Linked DNA regions of Homo sapiens: all the other regions are linked to region 3. The links come from fine-mapping of genetic effects on gene expression. A gene starts in region 3. Each other region holds a variant in brackets. All regions are shown on one strand. Distances are from middle to middle.

Region 1 (8,187 bases), 48 kb before region 3:
CTTTATTTCCCTATACAAAAGATTTTTCAGGGATAGCCCAAGTAGTGATAGTTTTTCTTTTCCTCCAGATCTTTTATGTTATAAAGAAATTTAAAAAATTATAAATTTAGCTAAATACCCACCTTTTATTCTTTCTCTGTCCTTCAGTTAACAAATGAGGACCTGAAACTAGTGCATTTCATTCCCATGTATACTTTTAAAATTTTTTTATTGAAATGAAACTCTCATAATGTAGAATGAACCACCTTAAAATGTACAATTCAGCAGCATTTAGAACATTAACAATCTTGTGCAGCCACCAACTATATCAAGTTCCAAAACATTTTCATCACTTCAGCAGAGAACCCCATACTACTAAGCAGCTATTCCCCATTTCTCACTCCCCTGAGCCCTTGAAAACTATCAATCTGCTTTCTGTGTCTATGGATTTATCTATTCTGAACATTTAATATAAAATGACTCATGAAACATGTGACTATGTTAGTCTATTCTTGCATTGCTATAAAGAGATCCTGAGGCTGCATAATTTATACAGAAAAGAGGTTGAGACCAGGCACAGTGGTTCATGCCTGTAATTCCATGCCTTTGGAAGGCCAAGGCAAGAGGATCACTTGAGTCCAAGAGTTCAAGAACAGTCTGAGCAGCATAGTGAGAACCTGTCTCTACAAATATGGTGGCACACACCTGTGATTGCAGATACTTGAGAGGCTGAGGTAGGAGGATGGCTTTAGCCCAAGAGTTGAAGGCTGCAGTAAGCCATGATCAAGAAAGGCCCCATCTCAAAAAAAGAAAGAAAGAAAAGAGGTTTAATTGGCTCACAGTTCTGCAAGCTGTATAAAAAGCATGGTGCTGGCATCTGCTTCTGGTGAGAGCCTCGGGAAGCAAAGGAGGAAATGGGCCACATGGATCAAGTGGGAGAGAGAAGGGAAGAGGTGCCACATACTTTTAAACAACCAGATCTCTCAAGAACTCAGTCACTATTGCAAGGACAACATTAAGCCATTCATGAAGGATCCATCCCCATGACCCAAACACCTCCTACCAGGCCCCATCTCCAACACTGGGGATTACCATGGGACCAGAGAGAAGGTTCGTCAGGATGAGCCCGCATGGACAAGTGCCCAAAAGGCTTCCTGTAAGAGGCTACATCTTACCCATCAGCTCTTAAACAAAAGTTTGTTGAAAATCTCTCCACTTCTCTCGTTATCCTTTGTAGCCACAGTGATCAGCCATGATCATCTTTGCCCACTCAGCTGCATCAGCCTCCCAACTTGCTCCCACCTCCCCTCCCCAGCCCTCTCTAATACCTTCTCCATCATCGTTTTATGCACAACAAAGATCATGTTCTCCTCTAACCCTCTCATGGAACCCCATTGCTGTTAAGATAAAAGCCAACCTCTTCAGGCCCTGAAATGACTTGACCCCTACTATTTTTCTGACCTCCTTTCTTACAGGCCATTTTGTCTTATAAGTTCCAACCCATTGTCCTTTCAGTTACTATAATTCCCGAAGTCCTCTCCTGCCCCAGGGCCCTCTCACATACTGTTCTCCCTCCCTGTGAGGCTTTTATCCCATCTTCACCTGGCTAAGTCATCCTCAGGTATCCCCAGGTATCTCATCCTTAGAGTGACTTTCGCTGATCTCCCAAACCACAGTAGGCACTCTTTTCAATCTCTTTCACCAACCCCTCTTCTCCTTTGTAGTGCTTATCTCTCTTTAGTTATATAGGTATTTACTAAAAAGAGGTAGTAAAATACAGTAGTTAAGTGTCCTAAGACCACATGGCCTCAGGCAAGTTATTTACCTCTTCTGCCTGTTTTTCCATCTGAAGAATGCAAAGAATAATAACAGTAACCTTCTCCTGTGGTTGTAGAAAGACTGAGTTGGTGTATGCAGAGCCCTCAGCACAGAGTCTGCCCAGAGCCCCTGGCTGAGACTGTGTAGGGAATTGGGGGCATTTATGCAAAATGACCACTGAGATGCCACCCAACACAAAAATGGCACAAATGCCAATACCATTGTGGAACAAGCTTTGACGTTCTCTTCACAGCAGAGGTTAGCTTCACTAACCTTTAAAGTTACTTCCAAATCTGAGATTCTGTGGCTCCGTCTGTGTTCCAGGGACAAAAGGTGCCTGGCTGTGGGGGAACTTACATTCCCCAGGATTTTGTTTTTATACAGGGACAAGGCAGTGTAAATTCACACAACCTTTTGGAAAGCAGTTTGGCAGCATGTACCAAAAAAGACATAAAACATACAGACCTTTTGATCCAATAATTCCATTTCTGGGAATCTATCCTAAGGAAATAATCCTAAATAGGGATAAAGGCTTATGCACAAAACTTTCAATGTAATCTCATTTATACTAGGAAAAAATAGAAACAGCTTAATTGTCCCCTAATAGGAGAGAAGGGGGTTAAATAAATTATTGTACAACTACTTGATGGATATCGTTTGGCCATTAATGGCTCCAAAACATAACAGGGGAAAAACACTTATGATATAATATTAGGTTAAAGAAAAAGCACACAGCAACAGTGTATAGGTACTATTACAAATCTTTGAACAGAAGACCTATGCATACACAGAGAGAACAAAAATAACAGAAAGAAAGAAACTAAAGTGGTAACAGTGGTATAGTTCTGAGAAATAGAACTAAATAAATAATGATTTACTCTTGTTTTCCTACCTTTTCCTCCTGATATTTCGTGAGCGTATATTTAAAATAAAATACAAATAGTTCCATAGGACAAGAATAGATAATATATGAGGTTAAAAAAATAGCATATGTATTTTGATCAAAAAGTGTATATACTATGAATAGGAAAAATATTAGAAGGAAATCACATACATATATGCACACACACACACAAACATACACACACACGGCCAAACAAAAACCAAACAAACCAAATCTGTGCCTAATCTTCTAGAATCCCACTATATTAGAATCCTTGCCAGTGGTGGGGTGGTTTTCTTACCTATCTTTGCCCAAGTGTGCTTCATTTTTGCTGCCTCCCATCCTTTCTCCAGATAGCAGTCCAAGAAATCTATCTATTAATAGGAGTCACATACGATTCTCATCACTGGCAAACTCTTCACTGGCTTCTTAATGCCCTGAAGATAAAGTCTAAGTTCCCCAAGAAAGCTTTAGCCTCAATATCCACAGCCTCCGCAACGGGCTCCACCCCCCATCCTTCTTCCTCCTCACTCTTCTCCAGCCTCCCCAGCTTTCTCACTCTCCAAGGTGCCTTGTTCTCTCTCAATGCCAGGCTTTCACTGAAACCATTAGCTCTCCATGAAAAAACTACTTATTCCATCCTGGCACTTATTTTCTCAGACACCTTACAGTCAACCTTCAGTTTTCAAGAAATTGCTTAG[G/A]AGTTCAGTCCCTAAGGAGAGTGTTTCTGATCACGTAGATGAGATTATCCTGAAAACACAGATCTAAAGTGCATCCAAAGACATGCATTTCCTAGTCCCAACAAGAACGTAAACTCTAAACACTATTGAAAGAAAAAGGAATGCCTCTAACTTAAATCTGCTCCTCCCTGCACCAACAGAAATCAACATTTTTTGAGTTTGAGTAGCACAAATGTGTCAGTCAACAAGATGCATTACTTCATCAAACTTTATAACAACCTTACTTCATTTGGATATTTTTAAAATTTCAATTTATAGAAGAGAACACTAAGGTTTCAGAGGGGTAATCCTCAGAGTCTTTTGCCCAAGGCAATTTGCCCAAGGTCACATGGCTGGACAATGATGACTTTGTCCTTCAAAGTCAGCAGTCTTACTCCACAAAGAAATGTCAGTGGGAAGGGAGAAGACATGAAGATTTCTGCTAGTTTAGACTCTAGGGTAACATTCCACTGCTTTGTCTTTTTTTTTTTTTTTTTTTTTTTTTTTTTACCAAACCTCAGTGCTCAGCTTTCCTCCCCAGCACACTGAGTCATTGTTGGATTTCCCAGCTCTCGCTCCAATGTGATGGAGTCTGCTGAGGACATTGTTTTGGCTGGAAGTGAATATGTATGCAAGAGGCACCACCTGCCGCTAAATCTTTGCCTTTGTTGGGTCTAATATAGCTCTTGACCCTGAACTTGGCTCATGTCCTCAGGCACCCTCCCCACAAAATGCCTCACATGTTTTTAGCAATAAACAAAGTAGAGAACATGGGCCCCCCATTATCCGGATAAACGTTTAGAAACACCAAAATGTTCAAATAGACCGAGATGACTGAAAAAAAAAGAGAGTTGAAGAGCTTTTTCTACTAAATAATAAATGTAAGGTATTAGCACAATATTGTTACAATCACCACTATTTTTATGCCTACATAATGTCACAAAGACACTCTCAACATTCTGTGGCTGGAGTGGTTTGCATCATTGAGTGGAGGCATTGCTTCCAGGTCTCTGGCCTTCGGATGGTTTTCAGGTGCAAACAAGAGGAGCATAGAGAACCCAGGATAGTCAATGGCACTTACCAAAGAACAGTAGCCAAAGGTCAATGGTAAGAGCAGCGGCAGCTATGTCAGCACTGTTCACCCACTTCATATTTACGGAGCACCCACGAAGTGCCAGGCAACAGGGACTCATTTTCTGGGGATTATTTCAATTAATTTTTACAACAATCCAAGGAGCCAAGTACTATCACTCTCCTCATCCTAAACCGAGAGCTTGGTTTGAAGGTCAGACAAATCTGGGTTTGAATGCCAAATCTATCACTCAGTAGCTGTGTGACCTTGGGCCAGTTCTCTCATTTAGAAACTTCAGTTTCCACACCTGTAATAAGGAGATAATAATACCTACTTCGCTAAGTGGTCAGGACTCACTGTAGGTAGCACATAGTAGATGGTTAATAAATATATAGATATAGATATTTAAAATTTGTGGTACAACCGTACAATGGAATACTATTCAGCAATGAAAGAAACATGCAACATGAATGACTCTCAAAAACATTATGTTAAGTGAAAGAACAGAGCCTCAAAAACCCACATATTGTAAGATTCTATTTATATGACACTCTGGAAAAGGCAAAATTACAGGACAGATATATGATCAGAGGTTGCAGGCAGCTGGGGTGGAGGAGACTGACTACAAAGGGACATAAGGGAACATTTTGGAGGGAATGGAAATGCTCTGTATCTCTTTTTTAGTGGTGGTTATACAATTGCATACATTGGCCAAAAATCACGAAACTATTAATACCAAAAGGGTAAATTTTACATTTTAATAATTATAATCTAATAAACCTGTTTTTTTTTAAAAAAAAAAAAAAGGATATTGCACAGATATGACAGCAAAGGAGCTTCTTAATCCAGATTCCTTGGGATTTGGCAGATTTTTTATCTCCAGTTCATTGACCTGAACATGCCTAGTTATTCTTTTCATATTTGCCTATCTGATAATTCATCCTATTTTCCCCAGGGCAGAATAAATCAAGAGGTGAGGAAGGAAAAGAGCTTACTTGGAAAATCCTTCCTCCTGAAGACCAAAGGATCAGGGAAAATGCATTCTCATCTAATATCTACCCTAACCTAACATTATTTCATCTAATATTATTTCCTGTCCATTCAATGCTAAATTTCCAAATAGCTCAGTGGGTACATGGAAATTCATTATCTACTTGATCTCTGTTTTTTAATATGTTTAAAACTTTCGATAATTTTTTTTTTTTAGAAAGGGTCTTGCTTTGTCACCTAGGCTGGAGTGCAGTGGTGCAAACATGGTTCACTGCAGCTTCAACATCTCGGGCTCAAGCCATCCTCCCACCTCAGCCTTCTGAGTAGATGTGCCTATACATGCACTCCAGCAATGGCTGGTTTTTTATTTCTTTTTTATGTATTTATTTATTTTTGTAGAGATGGGGTTTTGCCATATTGCCCAGGCTGGTCTCAAGCGATCTTCCCACCATAGCCCCCCAAAATGCTGGAATTACAGTTATGAGCCACCACGTCTGGCCAACTTTCTATAAGTTTTTAAGTTTTTTACGTTTTAAAATATGAGAAGTGATATTTTGGACAAGGTAAAGTATTATGATCTGGGATAATGCTATATTGTTAATTCACATTTATCCACAAGGATGGATATTTATGTAGATTAAAACACTGGATTGTCTTCTACATGTGAAGTAGAAACCAGGTATCAGTGAAGGCTGTAGAGCAAAGACTCTTTTGGCCACCCTGCAGGGACCTGAGTTCCAGTTCTGGTTTAGCATAAATAGGTTATTTGGGCAAGTCACTTCTTACTGAATCTGGCTTTTTATCTGTGAAACAGGAAACTCAAGCAGATAACCTCTGAGATCCCTTCTTCTCTAACAGTGTGAAATTCCCAGTGCAGTGTAAGAACTGTGAGTTGAGATCCTGTCTTCGCTTTCAAGCTGTATGTTCAGGGCCCAGCACAGTGCCTGGCACACACAGGGGTCAATGACATTTGTTCATTCCATGAGTCACTGAATTGCCTTTTTTAAATATGCAAACTCCTTTTCTCATAAGAACCCACCTCTTTCCCTGCAATGAAAGCAGATTCAGTTTAGAAACCAAACTGAGTCATTTCAGCTGGTTGAAGTCCGCTTGAAAAGCCAGGAAAGCGGCAGCAGGCACCACCTCTACCTGGTCAACAGCCTGGTTCATGAAATCCCACTCACAGCCCTTCTGAGGAACCTACTGACCCCAGGATAAGGACCAAAACCTCCCGTGGCCAACAGAGCCCCGCCTGGCCCAGGCACATCCTCCCTGCAGGCTTATGCCTGCCTTTGCTCTTTCCCACTGGCCTCCACTCAGCATCATCCTCTTCCACCTCAGGGCCTTTGCATATGACATTCTCTCAGCCTGGATGTGTTTTCCTGCCCTTCTGCCAGGTTCATGCCTACCGTTTCCCCCCCTTTTAGGTCAGATGTCATTCCTTTAGGCAAGTTCTCTCTTATTTAGGCAAGTTCTTTAGGCAAGATTCAACTGGGTTGTCCGGCTAAACACTCCACAATATCCTTTATTTTTTTCCTTCAAGCATTCTCCAAAACTTATTGAGTTTATCAAATGGTATTAACTGTCCTTAATATGAAATGAATAAAAAATAACCTCATTTTTCTTCCATCATTTGTTCTAGCCAAATTCTGTTGGATCTTTCTTCCCTGCCCTTTTATGACATCTCAGGCAAATTTCTTGGCTTTCTGGTAACTTCCAGTTACATGAACAATTTTATTAGTCAATTGTGACTCATTTTCAGATATTAAAAAGACAAATCTCAATCAAATTTTCTATTTTATATCCAATACAATACTTGTCCATCTCCATGGCTGTAGTTCAGGATATGCTGTACCCTTTCACTCTTCCCCCATCTCCTGCCACTTCCTTTCACTTTCAGCTCCTCTTGAGTCAGGTCAGAGAGTAGAATAATCAGGAAAAAAGTGACTGAATTATTCTTACTTAGTAAGTGCTACTTGTATGATCCTCTCCTGGCTCCAATGTCTGCTATGCACTCCAGGTAGCCAAATGCTGGCTCTTTCGGGGTGAAGGTGTTCCTTGGTTGATAGCTTGCAGTGCTCCCCCCACCAGCCTCAGATTCTGTACTCAGTGATACACCCAGTGACTTCTTAGTGGCCTCCCCCCACTAGGAGGACTCCTTGGCTCAGGAAGTCCCATCACGATGGCCCCACTCAGCTGCCTTCCTCAGTACCATCTCCCTCTTGGGGAGTGCATATATTCTTGCCTCTCTAACAGCTGCCCCTGCACTCCTCTCCCTTCTCCACAACTCTACCTTGATGCCTCTCTTCAACCACTAATCTTTTCTGAATTTCTAGCTTTCTTTTATGTGGACTGAAAATGGCTGATGGTCACTGTCAGATCCAGCTGGATTTTAACAAGTTCTAAGTCGATGTATGAGCATTGGTTGCCTATCATTCTCTGCTTTGTGTTCTCAGCTGAAATTCCAAGTGGATGGGAATTCCCAATTCATATCCTGTTAAGCACAGTTCTGTGATTATTTCATAAATATCTCTCTTCCTCACTAGATTTTGTCTCTACAAGGTCTCTTTGTTTGCTCTCTACTGAATACCCAGACCAAGCATTCAGCATCTGACATATAGTAGCAGCTAAATAAATAAGTGATGAAGTAATAAATAAAAGAACAGGATGAGACACAAAGAAGACCAGATTTGTATCACTACAACTCCCCGGTTTGTAAGGACAAG
Region 2 (8,187 bases), 41 kb after region 3:
AGTTTTTAAAAATCCTAGGCCGGGTGCGGTGGCTCTCGTCTGTAATCCCAGCACTTTGGGAGGCTGAGGCGGGCGGATCACGAGGTCAGGAGTTCGAGACCAGTCTGGCCAACATAGTGAAACCCCATCTCTACTAAAAATACAAAAAAAAAAATTAGCCGGGTTTGGTGGAGGGTGCCTGTAATCCCAGCTACTCAGGAGGCTGAGGCAGGAGAATCTCGTGAACGCGGGAGGCAGAGGTTGTAGTGAGCTGAGATCATGCCACTGCACTCCAGTCTGGGTGACAGAACGAGACTCCATCTCAAAAAAAAAAAAAGAAAAAAAAATCCTTACACTGGGTAATACTCATCTGCTTCTTTCCTCATCCTCAAAAACATTTAAAATACTGAGACAAATAATAACTTCATTTAGCATTGCATTGTGGAATGTATTGATTAGCACAGCTTCAACTTCTGTACAATTGAGTTGGTAGATAACTATTTAACCTTAACACTACAAAATGAGAAAATGAAGGAGAAGTATAGAATTCAACATAAAAGGAAACTGTATACAGTTGCTTGATATTATGATAGATTATACCCAACTGACACCCTCATTTTTATTCTGGCCATTACTGGACATCTAGCTGCACCTAAGTGAAATTTGACAGCACCTCACTTTAGCTGTACCTCCAGGTTTCATTCCAGGGTATCCCTTCCTCTCCAGAAGGCTTGCGGAGGCCCACTCATGTATTCTGACACATATGCAAGACTGGAAGCACCAACTATGTAGAGGCCAAGGGGACACTTCCTTGTCACCCTCTGAAAGTTCACTGAAAATCAGCTGACAAAAGGCAGATTAATAGGAGAAAAGGCATACACATTTATTAGTGTGCAAGGAGTAAAGATAATTACGTACCCTTCATCCTAGAGGAAAGAGAGATGGAGAAGTGTGGGTGATTTTAGCAAGTAGAAAATGATTTTTAGGGGAATTCAATGGGCTTGGAGAACGTAACAGTGGCCTCGGACAAAGTCTGTTGGGCCCGCAGAGCAGACAATGGTTTTTGACTAAAGTCTGTCCAAGTGTGTTGATGGACTTCAGTCTTTCTTCCTGCGATATGGGTACAGTTAATGAACACTCAGGAGAGGGACCAAAGGTCACTGTTTTCTTCTTTGGCAGGTTTGGACTCAGGCAGCTAAGGGAACTTCAGAGAACAACCTCATCCTGTGCTTTAGGAGAGATAGGGAATTTGGCATCCAGGGTAGGGGAGGTCAGAGAGAACTTGAGGCTTCTTCTTCAGTTCAGCATGTCAAAGCACCATATTTTGGGCCATCTGTTTCTGAGCCCCTCCAACCACCTGGGGGACAGAAGCCATTAGACAAATATTCCCCTCTTCTGTGTCCCTGGTGGACAATTCTGAGAAGCAGTCTACGTGACTCCTCAGAGGATCCCTGTGGGTTAAACTCTCTTGCCCACAGTGGTAGCCTTGTCAATCAAGTTCTCCTGCACTCACTTTCCACCTGCTTTATTCTTCCCAGTCCCCAGTTCCTGTTCTTTGGTGTCACTTCTCAGAGTCAACTACAGGCACAGAAAAACCCTTGCCACAGGCTCTGGTTTCCCATGGGCTAAACTAAAATGTTTAGTCGTATCATATGAATACAAACTATAGACCAAAAAAAAGACATGTAAGAAAAAGCTAGTAATATGATAATAATGGCTACCATTAATGCACCTGACTGGTTATATTTTATGTACATTTCCTTATTTGATGCTCTACTCAAGTGGCCTAAGTTGTAAGTGGTACAGTTAAAATTCAAAGCCAGGCAGTCAGACTTTAGAGCCTATGGTTTCAACTGCCAAGCTCTACAAGACAGTGCCTGATATGAATCAGACAATTTGATTCCAAAAAGAGAGTTCATTTTAGGATGGAGAAAGGAAGTAGCTTTGTGTGGTCTTGAGGAACAGGTAGGACTTGGGAAGGATATATTGAAGGTCCCCAGTGAAGATGGCACACTACATGACTGTTGTTGGGTGACAGTTATTCCATGCTGTGAAATAATTCTCTGTCCATATAATAATGATCAAGTTTCTGTCATAGGTAGAATAAGTATGTTCCTTCTTGCCATGAACACCTATATGTGCTACTGGGATGGCTTAGAATTGCTCAAAATTGCTTGACATTTAGATTGTGCTTCATGAAAAAGGAGGAGTATCTGGGTTTTAAAAGGGGTGGATTAGAAGGAGAGATGGGTAAGAAGTTGGAAACAGCACCTTGCAGATTAGCTTTCAGAGGCAAAAGGGAATACCCATATGATAACTATCACATAGAGCAAGTAGAGACAGAGGGCTCAGCTTCCCAGGGTGGATAGCAGGACCAGAGGTTCAGTGAGGACAGGCCATGTACCCTGGAGGATGTGTGTTGGACTTACTTACAATCAGACATTATCAATGTTTTTCTTTATAGACTGTTTGGAAATGATCCTCTGTGAAGTGGATAATCTTAATTTATAGGATGAGATAACACTTTTTTTTTTTTTTGAGATGGAGTCTTGCTCTATCTCCCAGGCTGGAGTGCAGTGCTGCAATCTCAGCTCACTGCAACCTCTGCCTCCCAGGTTCAAGGGATTTTCCTGCCTCAGCCTCCCCAGTAGCTGGGATTACAGGCGCCCGCCACCACGCCTGGCTAAACTTTGTATTTTTAGTAAAGGTGGGGTTTCACTATGTTTGCCAGGCTGGTCTTGAACTCCTGACCTCAGGTGATCTGCCCACCTCGGCCTCCCAAAGTGCTGGGAGTTCAAGCATGAGCCACTGCATCTGGACAACAGTTTTCATTTTAAAGCTTATTGAGTATACAATTTTACATTTGTTCAGTCTTGAGAGAGACGAGTTGAGTAAGAAAATATCAACATCAACCTTCAAATATACAGTCATGCATCACTTAGTGATGGGGATATGTTCTGAGAAATGTGTTCTTAGGCATTTTCGTCATTGTGTGAACCCATTGTGTGAAGGTACCTACACAAACCTAAATGGCATAGCCAACTACACACCAAGGCTGCAAACCTGAAGAGCATGTTACTTTTCTAAATACCATAGCAATGTAACACAATGGTAAGTATTTTTTTATGTAAACATAAAAAGGGTACAGTAAAAATACCGTATTTATAGTCTATGAGACCTCCGTCATGCATGCAGTTCTACAGGCTGTCGCTATGGAGCGCATGACTGCATTTGAAATTTGCCAGCATTCCATGCCTTAGGAATGATAAGATGCAGCAGCAGTCAGAAGATAAGCCTTTGGGATGGGGGGGTTAACCTTCATTTTAGAACAGCCTAAGTTTCTTGGGTTAAATGGTTTATCTATCATTTTTTTCCACTCATATAGCCAGGGAAAGAGGTAGAAAGGACTCAACAAGAAGTTGACTCCCAAAGTTACTCAAGAGTCAAGTTCCATGATTCTGCACGAAAAATCAAGCCTAAACCCCAGGTGAGAAATCTTGTTTTTTAAAATCATTTGTTTGTTTGTGTTTTTTACAAATATCCAATGACACATGACTACAGGCCGGGTGTGGTGGCTCACGCCTGCAATCCCAGCGCTTTGGGAGGCCAAGACAGGCAGATATATTGAGCACAGGAGTTCAAGACCAGCCTGGACAACATGGCGAAACCCCATCTCTACAAAAAATACAAAAATTAGCCAGACATGGTGGCACACACCTGTGGTCCAAGCTACCTGGGAGGCTGAGATGGGAGGATCACTTGAGCCCATGAGGTCGAAGCTGCAGTGAGCCATGATTGTGCCACTGCATTCCAGCCTGGGTGACAGAGTGAGACCTCATCTCTTAATTAAAAATAAATAAATGACTACATATATAACCTGACTCCTGTTGCCATGCAGTTTGCAAGAAAAAAGTATGAGAAGTGATTCCAACTTTCATACTAACTGGAGAGATCAGAATATTGCCTGACTTGAGGATGAGGGAGTGCATGGAAAGACAGGAAATGTTGGTGATAAGACAGTTTGTTCAGCTCTGAAGTTGCCCCGGCTTTCATTATAGGAAAAAAGGAGAGTACTAACTCCAAAAGAGAAACAACAAAAAAAGGTCATTTGTTTAAAAATTCTATATTTCTCATAATACAACAAAACTATCTCAGCATTGGCCAATAAAACAATAAATCCACTGTTTGTCATTTTAATAATCTTATCTAAAGTGTTTACTGCTATAAATATGTATTTACTTGTTGGAATGTAAATAATTGCTGGGGTTTTTTAAAGTCACTAATTAGAGTTACTATTAAAGGAGGCCTCCAACTGCCTGTGGCAGATATTAAAGTTTATTACCAGTAGTCTCACACCTTTAACTAAGACAATATGCTTCGGAGGCCTGGAATATGCCTGATCTCATTAGCATTAAGCCAGCTGTCAGTTAATTGTGCAGAGCGCATTACAGCTTATAAATGGGAAATT[G/T]CGATTGCTCCTTGCTTTTCGTTAGGTTCCACCTGGCTTCCCTTCTGCAGAAGAGGCCTATAACTTCTTTACTTTCAACTTTGATCCCGAACCAGAAGGATCAGAGGAAAAACCAAAAGCAAGACATAGAGCGGGAACTAATCAAGAGGAGGAGGAAGGGGAAGAAGAAGAACCACCTGCACAAGGAGGAGGAAAGGAAATGGTATTTAATATCAGGATGGTAATGAGGTGTGGGTGGAGGGCTAGGAGGAAAAAGCTGATGTCCCTGCAAGAAAGAAAGTGGCTGAGGAGAAACCTGCCACCACCAGGAGAATGACACTCCACGTCTGAGTTGAAATCCCAAGTACTGAATTCACATGGCTCCCTGTAGCTCTGGGTTAGACCCTACAATGTGGTAGGAAGAACCTTGATTAAACCTGTTTATTTTTCTTTTGTGGAAAAAAGAATTAAATAATGTGGCTTGAGGGTTTTTCTTGCTAGACTCCACGTAATGATTAGTATTTATTCCATGTGCAAAATATGTTCCTCTGCAAGGCAAATGAAATCTTGGTCTCTCTCTTACCACAACCTTACAAAGTAAGCAGCATTTTGTGCCCAAACACCACACCCAGGCTACAACTCAAATTCTGCAACTGTGGGTGGTATGTGTGAGATAAAAGGAGAATAAGCCATTTAAAAATGGGCAAAGGTATTGAATAGACATTTCTTCAAAGAAGACATACAAATAGACAATAAGCCCATAAAAAGATTCTTAACACCAATCATCATAAGGGAAATGCAAATCAAACCCACAATGAGATACCCCTGCACATCCATTAGAATGGCGCTTATCAAAAAATAAGTGTTATAGAGGATATGGAGAAATTGGACTTTGGTGCGTTGCTTGTAGCCATGTAAAACAGTGCAGCTGCTGTGAAAAACAGTATGGTGGTCCTTCAAAAGTTAACCACAGATTTACAATATGATCCAGCAATTCAATTCCACTCTGTGTATATATCCAAAAACACTGAAGACAAGAATTTGAACATATACTTGTGCACCGATGTTCATAGCAGCATTATTCACAAAAGCCAAAAGGTAGAAGCAACCCAAGTGTTCATCGGAAGATAAATGGATAAACATAAATATACAATGGAATATTATACAACCGCAGAAAGCATGGAAATTCTGACACATGCCACAACATAGATATACCTTGAAGACATTACACTAAGAAAAATAAGCCAGTCACAAAAGAATAAATATTGTGTGATTTCACTTATATGAGCTACATTGTATCATCAAAATCATAGAGACAGAAAGTAGAATGGTGGTTGTCAGAGGTTAGAGGAAGGAGGGAATGTTTAATGGGTATAGAATTTCAGTCTGGGAAGATGGATGGATGGTGGTAAGGGTAGAATCACAATATGAATTTACTTAATGCCACTGAACTGTTCACCTAAAAATGGTTAAAATGGGCCGGGTGCGGTGGCCTGTAATCCCAGCTTTGGGAGGCCGAGGAGGGCGGATCACCTAAGGTCAGGAGTTCACGACCAGGCTTGGCCAACGTGGTGAAACCCTGTCTCTACTAAAATTACAAAAATTAGCTGGGTGTGGTGGCAGGCACCTGTAATCCAGCTACTCAGGAGGCTGAGGCAGGAGTATTACTTGAACACGAGAGGCAGACGTTGCAGTGAGCCGAGATTGCGCTATTGCACTCCAGCCTAGATGACAAAGCAAGACTCTGTCTCAAAAAAAAAAAAAAGGTTAAAATGGTGGACTTCATGTTATATATATTTTACCACATTAAAAATAAGGAAAACACACTAGGATATTCTAGTATTCACATAATTGGCATACTTCTGTGCTTCACTTACAATCTCCTCCCTTGAAAAATGCCTCCCGGAAATGTACTTTTTTTACCTAGATCTACAGAAGCTTGGGAATATTTTAGCTTATTCTATAACAATCATTCTACAAATCAGCATTCAGGCCATTCAACATTGCTTGAGTGTCCTCCTGACATGACAGCTAACTTCCCAAAAGCAAGTGATCTAGGGGAGAACCCAAAAAAGAAGCCACAGTTCCTTTTATGACCTAGTCTCAGGAGCCACATACTGTCACTTCTGCCATATTCTACTCAGGAGAAGCAAGTCACGAGACGTAGTGCACTCTCAAATGGAGGAGAATTGGGCTTCACCTGTTGAAGATAGAAGTCTCCAATTGCGAATATCTTCTGAAATTATGGCACTTTCCTCCAAAGGCCACTTCTCCCTTCCTTTTGCCTATTCACTGCCCCAGAAGCTCTGTTCCTAAAACTGCTCTTTTAAATCACACACATTTGGAAGCCCTTCCCTATAGTCCATGCTCTGCTCTGCCCAGACACTTTTAAAGTATTTTCGTCTTCAAGGTTCATTTAGCCTTTTTGAACAAAGTTTTAGATCCTCTGTAGCCCCTTTCGCTAGCTCCCCTTTTCTGTCTTCTCTGCAGTTTTTCTCTGGGTGATTTTGCTCACCACGAAGCAGAGGTGGGGCAGGAGAAGGAAGATTACACACTGCCATCTGGTGATCTTTCTCTTTTCACTTGTTTGATGTTTTGGCATTCTCTGTCTTCAAGTTAAGTTAAAAGCATGGTTTCTACATAGATTCCCTTTTTCCTTCTTATTCTTTTGTGTACTTGGGGAGGAAATCTTAAGAGGCAGGTAGCTAGACTGCCATCATTGTCTTTAGCTACCTGAAAGTCTCCACAGGATTTTAAAAGATGTTGCTCATAAATGGACACCAGGTTTAAATTTTTAAAAGAAGGAGAAGGAGAAAGAAAAAGAAGAGGAAGGAAGAGAAGACGTTTAGAAAATATCCAAACAAAATCAATATATGTCAGCTAACATTTGTGATTATAGCCTCTTTGCTTTGAATTTTTAAGTGTATCATTTAATTTTATCCCCACAAAGTGCTTAGAGGTAAACTCCATTACTATAACTATCTTATAAGTGAGGAAACTGAGGATCAGAAGGTTAAATAAGCTGTTTCAAGTTCCTCAGGCAGTATATGGTGAAGCTGGGATTTAAACCCAGGCAGTCTGAACAGGGTGTGTGGACTGTGCACCTATACACTTGGTGCCTTTTCCCTTGGTTTAGTGCCAGGTGGAAGGTTAAACTGCTACATAAATTATGAGCCCAATTCTTTACATAAATGGCAAGAAGCAAGCAGTCTCATAGGAGGCCAGATTTGTTGGGATTTTGATTGTTTTGCTTACCACTTCTCTTCTGAAACAGCCATCTCTGATTTTGACATCTTCCAGGTGTGCAGAATACTGCAAAACAATTTTTTTAAAAACCCACTTGTTAAATATGAAAGGTTATATAGTTCTATGCTTTCACTTTTTTAAAAAAAGGAAAAGATAAAGTTGTAGGAAATGTTAAGTTTCATGAGTTTGGTATTGTGAATTATTTTTCTAACTAAGAATCTTAGCATGATTTTTTCTTGTTACTTTTTAACATTATGCAGGATGAGGAAGAACTGCTTAATGGTGATGATGCCGAGGACTTCCTATTGGGCTTAGATCACGTGGCTGACGATTTTGTAGCAGTCAGACCTGCAGATTATGAAAGCATCCATGATCGGCTGCAGATGGAAAGAGAAATGCTCTTCATACCCAGTAGGCAGACAGGTACTTGCTCTTTTTATTTTCTTGTTCAGCTTAGACATCGTCACTTACCTTGTCATGAAATATGGCTAGTGTATAAGGATGCCTCATCTCCA
Region 3 (8,187 bases):
TTAAAATGGGTAAAATGGCAAATTTCATGTATACACATTTTACCATAATTTTTAAAAAACTTATTAGACCCAGACAATTGTATAGACTTCACAGAAATGATAAAGCTATTTTTACTTGAACTGTTACAAAGATGAGTGAGAGAGAAATATTAGTCTGCTTTTTTTTTTTTTTTTGAGGTTAGACTATCCTTTATCCTAAAATGAGACAAGAACAATACAAGGCTGATCTCAGCTAAGAACATAAATGCAAAAATTTCTAGAAAGTGGTAATTAAATCCAATATTAATTTTTGAAGTATCTTGACAAAATTGAGTGTATCCCAGGAATGCAAGCACAATTTGACATTAAAATGCCTGATAATGCAATTCTCTACACTAATAGATGAAAGAATAAAAATAATATTTAATTATCTCAAAAGATGTAGAAAAAAGCTTGTGATAATGTGATTCAACATTTATTCTTGATGAAAAACTCTTTAGCCAACTAGGAACACTTAACCAAAAGAATGAGATTTTTGTGTTATGATTTAAAATAAATTTGCTAGATTCATTTATTTTGCTTACATAAGAACTTTTGCAAGTAATGGTGTTTTGCAATGATACTTTTTAATATTTTTGGAACTTAAGAAGTTGTATGATTCTTATGAATTAGTTCAGTATTAAAGATCAAAGAGGACGTGCCCAGCTAGCTCTGTTGGCAGACCATGAGACTTTTAAAATATCAGGGAGGTAATAATCAGACGGTTAATTAGCAAAAGAGTGGTGAACAAGTCCTTCCTCTCATGGCAGCTGACCATTTCAAGTAGATAATCTCTTACGGTAAACATTCATATTTTTCTTCACTTAATAAACCTTGCAACATTTACTATGTGCCAGGACTGTCCTAAGTGCTTCACAATTATTAACTTAACAAATTTCCTAACAACTCTCTCTGGAATAGTTACTATTATTAAACCTCAGTTTCCTACAGAGAAGGAAACTGAAACCTAGAAAGGTTAAGAAAGTTGACCGAGATCCCTCAGTTGTAAGACAGAGCATTCAACTTCTTTCTCTCTCCTCTCCTTCTGGTACTGTACTGGATATGGTGGACCTCATCAATTTCTCCCTGTATCTTTTACCTACTCTTTCCTATTTTCAATATCTCTGTGCCACATTTCAATTTTTTAAACCTATCTTTTGCATCTCTTCAGCTCTCTCATCTACAGTTTAGCACATTCTTTGACTTTTATCTAAATTTGTGACTGTATTATTTATTTCTAAAAGTTCTATCTGGTTACTTTTTGAATTTGTCTGATCTTTTTGATAGTGTCTCACTCTTCTTTCATATTTTCAAATCCTCCTTGTATCTTCTTGAATATTTGGTCATTGTTATTTTTCCACTCTCCATCTGATTATTGTATTGCAAGAAACTCTTGAGTATCTAATAGTGTCCTCTGGTTTGTCTGTGGACTCTTGAGTGTTTCTCTTCTGTTGTCTAATTTTGGGTTGTGAGCTCATCTTCCTCTGTGTTTATTTGTGGACATCCTGAATTGTCCAATTGAAGGTGTGTTCCTCCAGAAAAGTTTTGTAATAACTTCTGCCTGGCACCCCACGGGGATACAGTAGACAGAGGCCACTTTTTAAAAGTTATCACTTAGGGGCCTCCTAAAATATATAAGGAGCATAAATAAGACAAACTGCATGGTGCAAACCAATGGTTGTAAATTCTTCATATTTTTCTCACCACATGCAGAATACAAGCCAAGACAGACAAGTTTTCTTATTGTCTTCTTTTACCAGCACGAGATAGTAGATTGTCCCCTTCAATTGGAAAATACATTATTTCATACAGTTGTTCTTGTATTACTCCTTTGGTAAATTATACTTTTCCATTTTCATGGTTCTCTCTTTTTATAACTACAAGCATTAAATTTCCTAGCCTGAGATCCTTTAATGTTTTTTGTAATGCTTTTCTGTAAGGGCAATATGCTAGCTTTGTCATTGGAGGATCCAGAAATGTCAGTATGTAGGGTCTGTGCTTTATAATCATTCAGTTTTTCCAGAAAATAATTTTCTACTTTCTCCAGTTTTGTGCAGGTAGAGGTAGGATGGGGGAGCCAATGGCATGTTCTTGATTGTCTAAGTTCTTGAGAAAGGTTCAGAAAGGGCCCTGCAACATCTTCATTTCATATACAGTTTTCAATCCTGAGACACACTCACTTGCTGCAGTACCTGGGAACTTGAGACCAGAGAGTCTCTGGTTTAACTTCCCTAGAAAAGAAACCGCCAGTCTCCTTTGGGCAGCAGCAGATGAGGCAGATGTGGAGGACGGAAATTATGCCTGAGGAATGGGCATTTTTCAGGCTGCCAAGAAAAAGGATCCTGAGGATCAATCCCTTAATATACAGACTTTCAAATCTTCCTGCATTTTTAGCCCCGTATCTCTCCCCACCTTCCTTAGTCTATGGTTGTATTAGTTTCCTGATGCTGTTGTAACAAAGTACCACACACTGAGTGGCTTAAACAGCAGAAATTTTCTAACAATTCAGGAGACTAGAAATTTGAAATCAAGGTGTGGCAGGGTTGATTCTTTGTGAAGCTTCAAGAGACAGTCTGTTCCAGGCCTCTCTCCTGGCTGCTGATAGCCTTGAGTGTTCCCTGGCTTGGAGATGGTGCTCTCCCCATGTCTTCACGTTGCCTTTCTTCTATTTTGTCTGTCTCTGAATCCAAATTTCCCCTTTTGTAAGGACGCAATCATCTTGGATTAGATCTCACTCTAATGACTTCATTTTAATGTGATTACCTCTGTAAATACCCTATCTCCAAATAAGGTCCCATTCTGAGATACTGAGGTTAGGACTTCAGCATCTTTGGGGATGAGAGAGAACACAATTCAGCTATAACACTGCTGCCCCAAATCCTGGCACAGTAAATCAGCTCATTTCCTCATATTCATGCCTACGTGCACACCCCATCATACACAGACACACACACACATACATACACGTACAGAGACACAAACACAAATACATTGACACATACACATGCATGCAGGCTGTGTCAAAAAATGTACTCTGGATTTGTTTTAATTAGGTATGGTAAGACACACAGACACAAACATGATTGGCACAAAAGAAGAAGTTTATACTTAACAGATCCCTAGAAACAAGAAGCATGGTGTCTTGGTTCGTTTTCTGTTGTTGTAACAGAATACACAGACTGGGCAATTTATAATGAACAGAAATTTATTTTTCACAGTTCTGGTGGCTGGGAAGTCCAAGATCAAGGGGCTGGCATCCTGCAAGGGTCTTCTTGCTGCACCATCCTATGGTGCAAGGCAAGAAAACATGAGAGCAAGAAAGAGAAAGAGAGAAAACGAGGCCAAATTCATTCTTTTATAAGGAATCCACTCCTGCAATAATGGCATTAATGCATTTATGAGGGCAGAGCCCTACAGCCTAATTGCCTCTCATTAGGTGCCACCTCCCGACACCATTGTGTTAGGGATTAAGTTTCCAATACATGCTTTTGGGAAGACACATTCAAATCATAGAACATGGCATGCCACACAGGACCACATAGGGAAGAACCAATGTTGGTCAGAAGGCAGAACGGAGACAGCAGAGTACAGCACAGAGCCTTTACTAGGGTTTTCCCAGGAAGGAATAGGTGAAGCAGGGTAGGGTGCTGCATAAATTTAGGAGTGGATAGCTTGAATAATCGTGGTGTTCTCTGGGCTATAGTGGTCTGGTATCTGGACCTGGGGTGACTTAGGACAGGAGGAATATTGGCTTAGTGTGTGAGAGTTTGATAATGGAGATGGTTGTGTGGGCTCTGGATTGGTTGGCTTGTATATCAAAGGAGACTTTGCATATTTCAGGGGAATCATTTGCTATCTCTAGAAATTAGCTAACATAGGAGAATCAGTTTCTCCAGGATCAAGGCTCCAAATGCCAGAGCATCAAGAATACAGAAAATAAGAAGATACAGTCAATACACATACACACAAACATACACACACCATACACACAGACACAAATACACACAAACACATGTGCACATACACACTAGTCTATTGGAGTGTGTTTCCTTGGCTCCATTCATTCTATTACTCTTCCAGCTACTTTGCCTCCTACCTCTCCCTCTTTTTTTTTTTCCAACTTTTTTGAGCCATAACATTTATATCCGTTTTCAGGAATTGCAGTGGGATTCAGAGAATAGGCAAAGATTAAACTTGTGCGTTCAACCTTCCACTTTTAACTGGAAAACACTCAAGTGCAACATTTGTTGGTACTCTGCAGCACCTCCACAGAGCTTTTGCTGCTGCCACGTTAGACAGCTTCACCATGTAATGACGACCTTTTAAGATTCTAAATCCCCCCACCTCTGAGCCTGTTCTTCATTGGAAATGCAAGACGACCGGATGACATGAGGGAGGGGCAGCTCTTAAGGCTTGACCTAATTTCCAGTGCTGCTCATGTTGATTTCTCTCCGTCCTTCTACTGCAGGCTGTGCGTCTCTGCTTACCCAGCATGCTTGTACTCCACTACTGGAAGTAGCCTGTCACTTTAAAGGAAAAAAAAAAAAGCTACCGAGTGACCTTCCTTAGGAACGGGTTGCTAAGCTGGTGTTTTTGCTCCAAGACATGGCTGCAGCTTCCCAGGGAGGAGCCCAGGGGCATCTCCAACACTCAGCCTTTCCCTCCGGACCCTTTTAAAAGATTCAACAGCACCGTCTCTCTCCACTTCCATCCTAGAATGCAGAATCTGCAAAGTGCCTTTTGTAAAGTTTCTTAAGGTAAATCAGTCCCTAACCGGACTTTAGGCTGCAACAGTGATTTCCTGTTTTCAGTTACCCGGCTTGAAGTTCAGCCTCTCCAGGATACCGTGAGACTGGATTTAATGAATTGTAAATTTAGGGGCTCTCATCGTTATTTATGTTTTTACTTTCTGAAATGGGAACATAGACCATTACTTGGCAGCTTTGATTTGAGCTGCTATCTGGTATCTGGTTTGCAGGAAATGTAAGTCCAGTTCATCACAAGTCCTGAGTGAAAATGCTCTCTGACCAAAGCTCTGTGAAACATTAGCTGCGTGTTGCATTTATGGGCCTTTTAGTTCAAACTGGCTTAAGGGGAGAAGCACTAATTACTGCAAAATACACTTTTCTTGGTATGAGACAGAGAAAGGGCTACTAACCACAGTGCTAAGAGTTGCTGTGCTTTCCAAAGACTTCAAGAAAATGTACTGGCTACAACTTAAGCTGATTGTTTGTTTCCCTTCATTGCAAAGAGGTGGTATGAAAAGCTAATAAAGTCAAATAAGAAATATGTTTGCTACTGCATTTTCATATAACCTTTTCTGCAAATAAATTCAGCACCAGCATGAAATCTCTCTCTCTCTCTCTCTCTCTCTCTCTCTCTCTCTCTCTATATATATATATATATATATATATATATATATATATATATATATCCTAGAGCTCACTTATAGAGTCATTCATTCAAACATTTATGGAGCATCAACAATGCACCAGGCAATGAATTTAAGTTTAGAGTGTGCAAACATAAATTAGACTAGGTCAGAAGCTCAGAATTTGCTGGGAAAACAGACCTATAAACACATGATAAGAGTACAATGAGCTAAGTGCCATAAGAGATTTATAAAAACACTGAGAGGACAGTGGGATGACATCCAGGGAGGGGCTTCCAGTACTTAGCACATCATGTAAATGCACTGGTCATATATCACGTAACACAGCTCAAATATGGTACTCATGTGTACTCTTCAAGGCCAGTGTACATTATATCGAGCTGATTAAATGATTCTATAAAGCTATTGGTCACTAACCTTATGCTAAGGGAAACTGCAGCTGGAATAACTTGTAGAATAAGATAATGTATTCCAAAACAATGTATGTGGCACCTCCCCAGGTGTCCAAGCTCCAGGAGGGAACAGAAAAATGTTCTCAGGGTGTGAGGAAGAAAATACTCATGGGTAGAAGTGCAGGAGGTTTCAGAAGCACCATAAATGGAAACAGCAAGGCAACTGCCCTGGGCCTGGCTGAAGGGAGGGAGACATGAAACATGAGTTATGGTAGCTGGGGGTTGAAGATTGGAGCTGAAGGTGGGTGGGCTTGAACATCACCTAAGGTCTTTCTCATGACTCCTCTTCTATCCCCCAAGCTCTTTTCCCTCCTCATTCCTTTTTTCCACTTTCCCTCCCCACAATCACTTTTTCTTAGTAACAAAACCTACCAATATTGAGAGCCCAGCCTGTGCTAGGCATTTTACTACACACATTTCATCATTTAGCCCTTATAAATTAATCATCCTTCAAGGTAGGAAGTATGATTGCAATGTTGCAGACAAAAAAAAAAAAAACGTGTCTCAGAGAAGGGAGGGCATTGTTCCAAGATCACACAGCTAATAAATAAAGCTGAAGTTGGAACTCAGGTCCACATATTCCTTGGCAAAGAAATATGTGGACCACTCTTCCTATAAACCCATGTTTTTGCCATCCTGGAGTAGGGCATATATATTGTATGATTTTTTAAGCAACCAATATGGAGTTGAGATGCGTTGTATCTCAACCTCCAGGTATGGCTCTGACCCACTGATGACTCTTAGGAATAGTCCATTTATTCAGATGAAGGTGTCAGTACTTTCCTTGAAAAAATATATCTGGTTTTCTGCACTGAGTAAAATAAATCATTGGCTTAATGTAGCCTAAGCCTTTTCTCACCAGTGCAATGCTTCACAGCTTTCAACTGTAAATATTTCCAGAATAGCCCACTATTCTGGAAAGCACAGAATAATTATTGATGCCATTGCAAAAGCAAGAATAAATGGTGAGATGGAGGGGTAGAGTGGAGTGAGGGAGGACTCAGGAATCACAGAGTCTTGGGATCAAGTTCTGAATGTGACATTTAATAATTATAACTTTGGAAAAATCATGTAAATTGTCAGAGCCTCAGTTTACTCATACGCAAATTGGGGCACATACTACTAAGCCAGACATGTTATTGTGAGGACTAAAGAGAACATGTCTATAGTTAGCACAAAATAAGTGTGCAGTAAATCATAGCTATTTTGATGTTGCCAGTAGGAATATATTAACAAGTACCAGTGCATAAGATGATGGCAAACTGCATATTAAAACCAGGCAGTATTGATTTATCTTTTCTTAGCAACAGTGTTCATATAAAAAATAAATTTCGGTGTCATTTGATTTCCTTAGAAACTCATTTAAAGGAAATGATCAGGAAAGAATGAGGAAAAAAGAAAATCCCATTACATTTTTCATTTTCTACTTCTATTTTTTTCTTCCATATAAAGCATTTATTAACTTATAGAGAACTTTTTTTAGTTACTAAAATGTTTCACAGGTTTTTTTTTTTTTTCAGTTTGCAATGACCAGAGTTGTTCATTAGAGAGCTCTCATGTACTTTTGCATTTCATCTTTATTATCTGCCCCCTCATTCACTCTAGGTTATCTCCTTGCCTCTCTATTTTCTTAGCTGCTTTTACATTTTCCTTCCTCTATTTTTTGTACCCTGTGATGAGGTTTGTAGAGAAGACAATAGAATTTCAGATGCTTTATTTCCCTTTAACATGCTAATTCCCCTGTAGGGTCAGTGAAACCTTGATCTCAGATGAGCTGCTTAAATGACCTGACCAAGTCCCAGTTAAGATTTGGGTTCCAAGGATATTAGAAAGGGCTTATGATTTGTCAGCCATATGCCTGTTGTTTCTCCATGTGTTTTCTCATTTAATCCTCACAGCAGCCTAGAAGAAACAGTGGAGCTTTAAATAGTCCCAGAATGTGGCTATGGAACCACAGCCAATAAGTCAGTGACTTAATCATTCATTCGACAAGTATATATTGAATGTCCATGATGTCCCATAATCCTAGTCTCTGGGGGTAAACAATAAACAAAATAATGTTTCTGCCCTCTTGCAGCTATATTCTAATGGATATGGGCTGACATTAACAAGTAAGTATGTATGTTGAGTGGTAATAAGTACTGTGAAAAAATCATTGTAAGGTAGTTAGGGAATTCCAGGAGGGTGTTGGGAGGAGATCATTGTATTACGAATGGTCAGAGAAGAGCTCTCTGATAATAAAATTTCAGCTGAGACCTGAAGAAAGTGAAACAGCAAGAGCCATGCAGATATCTTGGGAAAAAGGAGAACTAGGTAGCAGGAACC

Evidence for each region.
Region 1: its variant is fine-mapped to the expression of CC2D2A in whole blood (TOPMed, PIP above 0.99).
Region 2: its variant is fine-mapped to the expression of CC2D2A in whole blood (TOPMed, PIP above 0.99).

Annotation. Positions count from the first base shown.
Region 1 is chr4:15,416,948-15,425,134 of GRCh38, forward strand. All of the region lies in intron 1 of C1QTNF7-AS1 (C1QTNF7 antisense RNA 1), which reads right to left. It also overlaps a transcript of C1QTNF7 not described here. Among named protein-coding and RNA genes, the nearest start is that of C1QTNF7-AS1, 6.9 kb to the right of the region's middle. The variant G/A (reference allele first, on the strand shown) is at 3,382.
Region 2 is chr4:15,506,775-15,514,961 of GRCh38, forward strand. It overlaps CC2D2A (coiled-coil and C2 domain containing 2A), which reads left to right. Exons shown (of 37, transcript NM_001378615.1): 7 at 3,365-3,466; 8 at 4,473-4,649; 9 at 7,933-8,095. LOC124900672 (a long non-coding RNA gene) reads right to left here and starts at 7,933. Exons shown (of 2, transcript XR_007058062.1): 1 at 7,682-7,933; 2 at 838-1,336. The variant G/T (reference allele first, on the strand shown) is at 4,448.
Region 3 is chr4:15,465,283-15,473,469 of GRCh38, forward strand. It overlaps CC2D2A (coiled-coil and C2 domain containing 2A), which reads left to right and starts at 4,600. Exons shown (of 37, transcript NM_001378615.1): 1 at 4,600-4,775.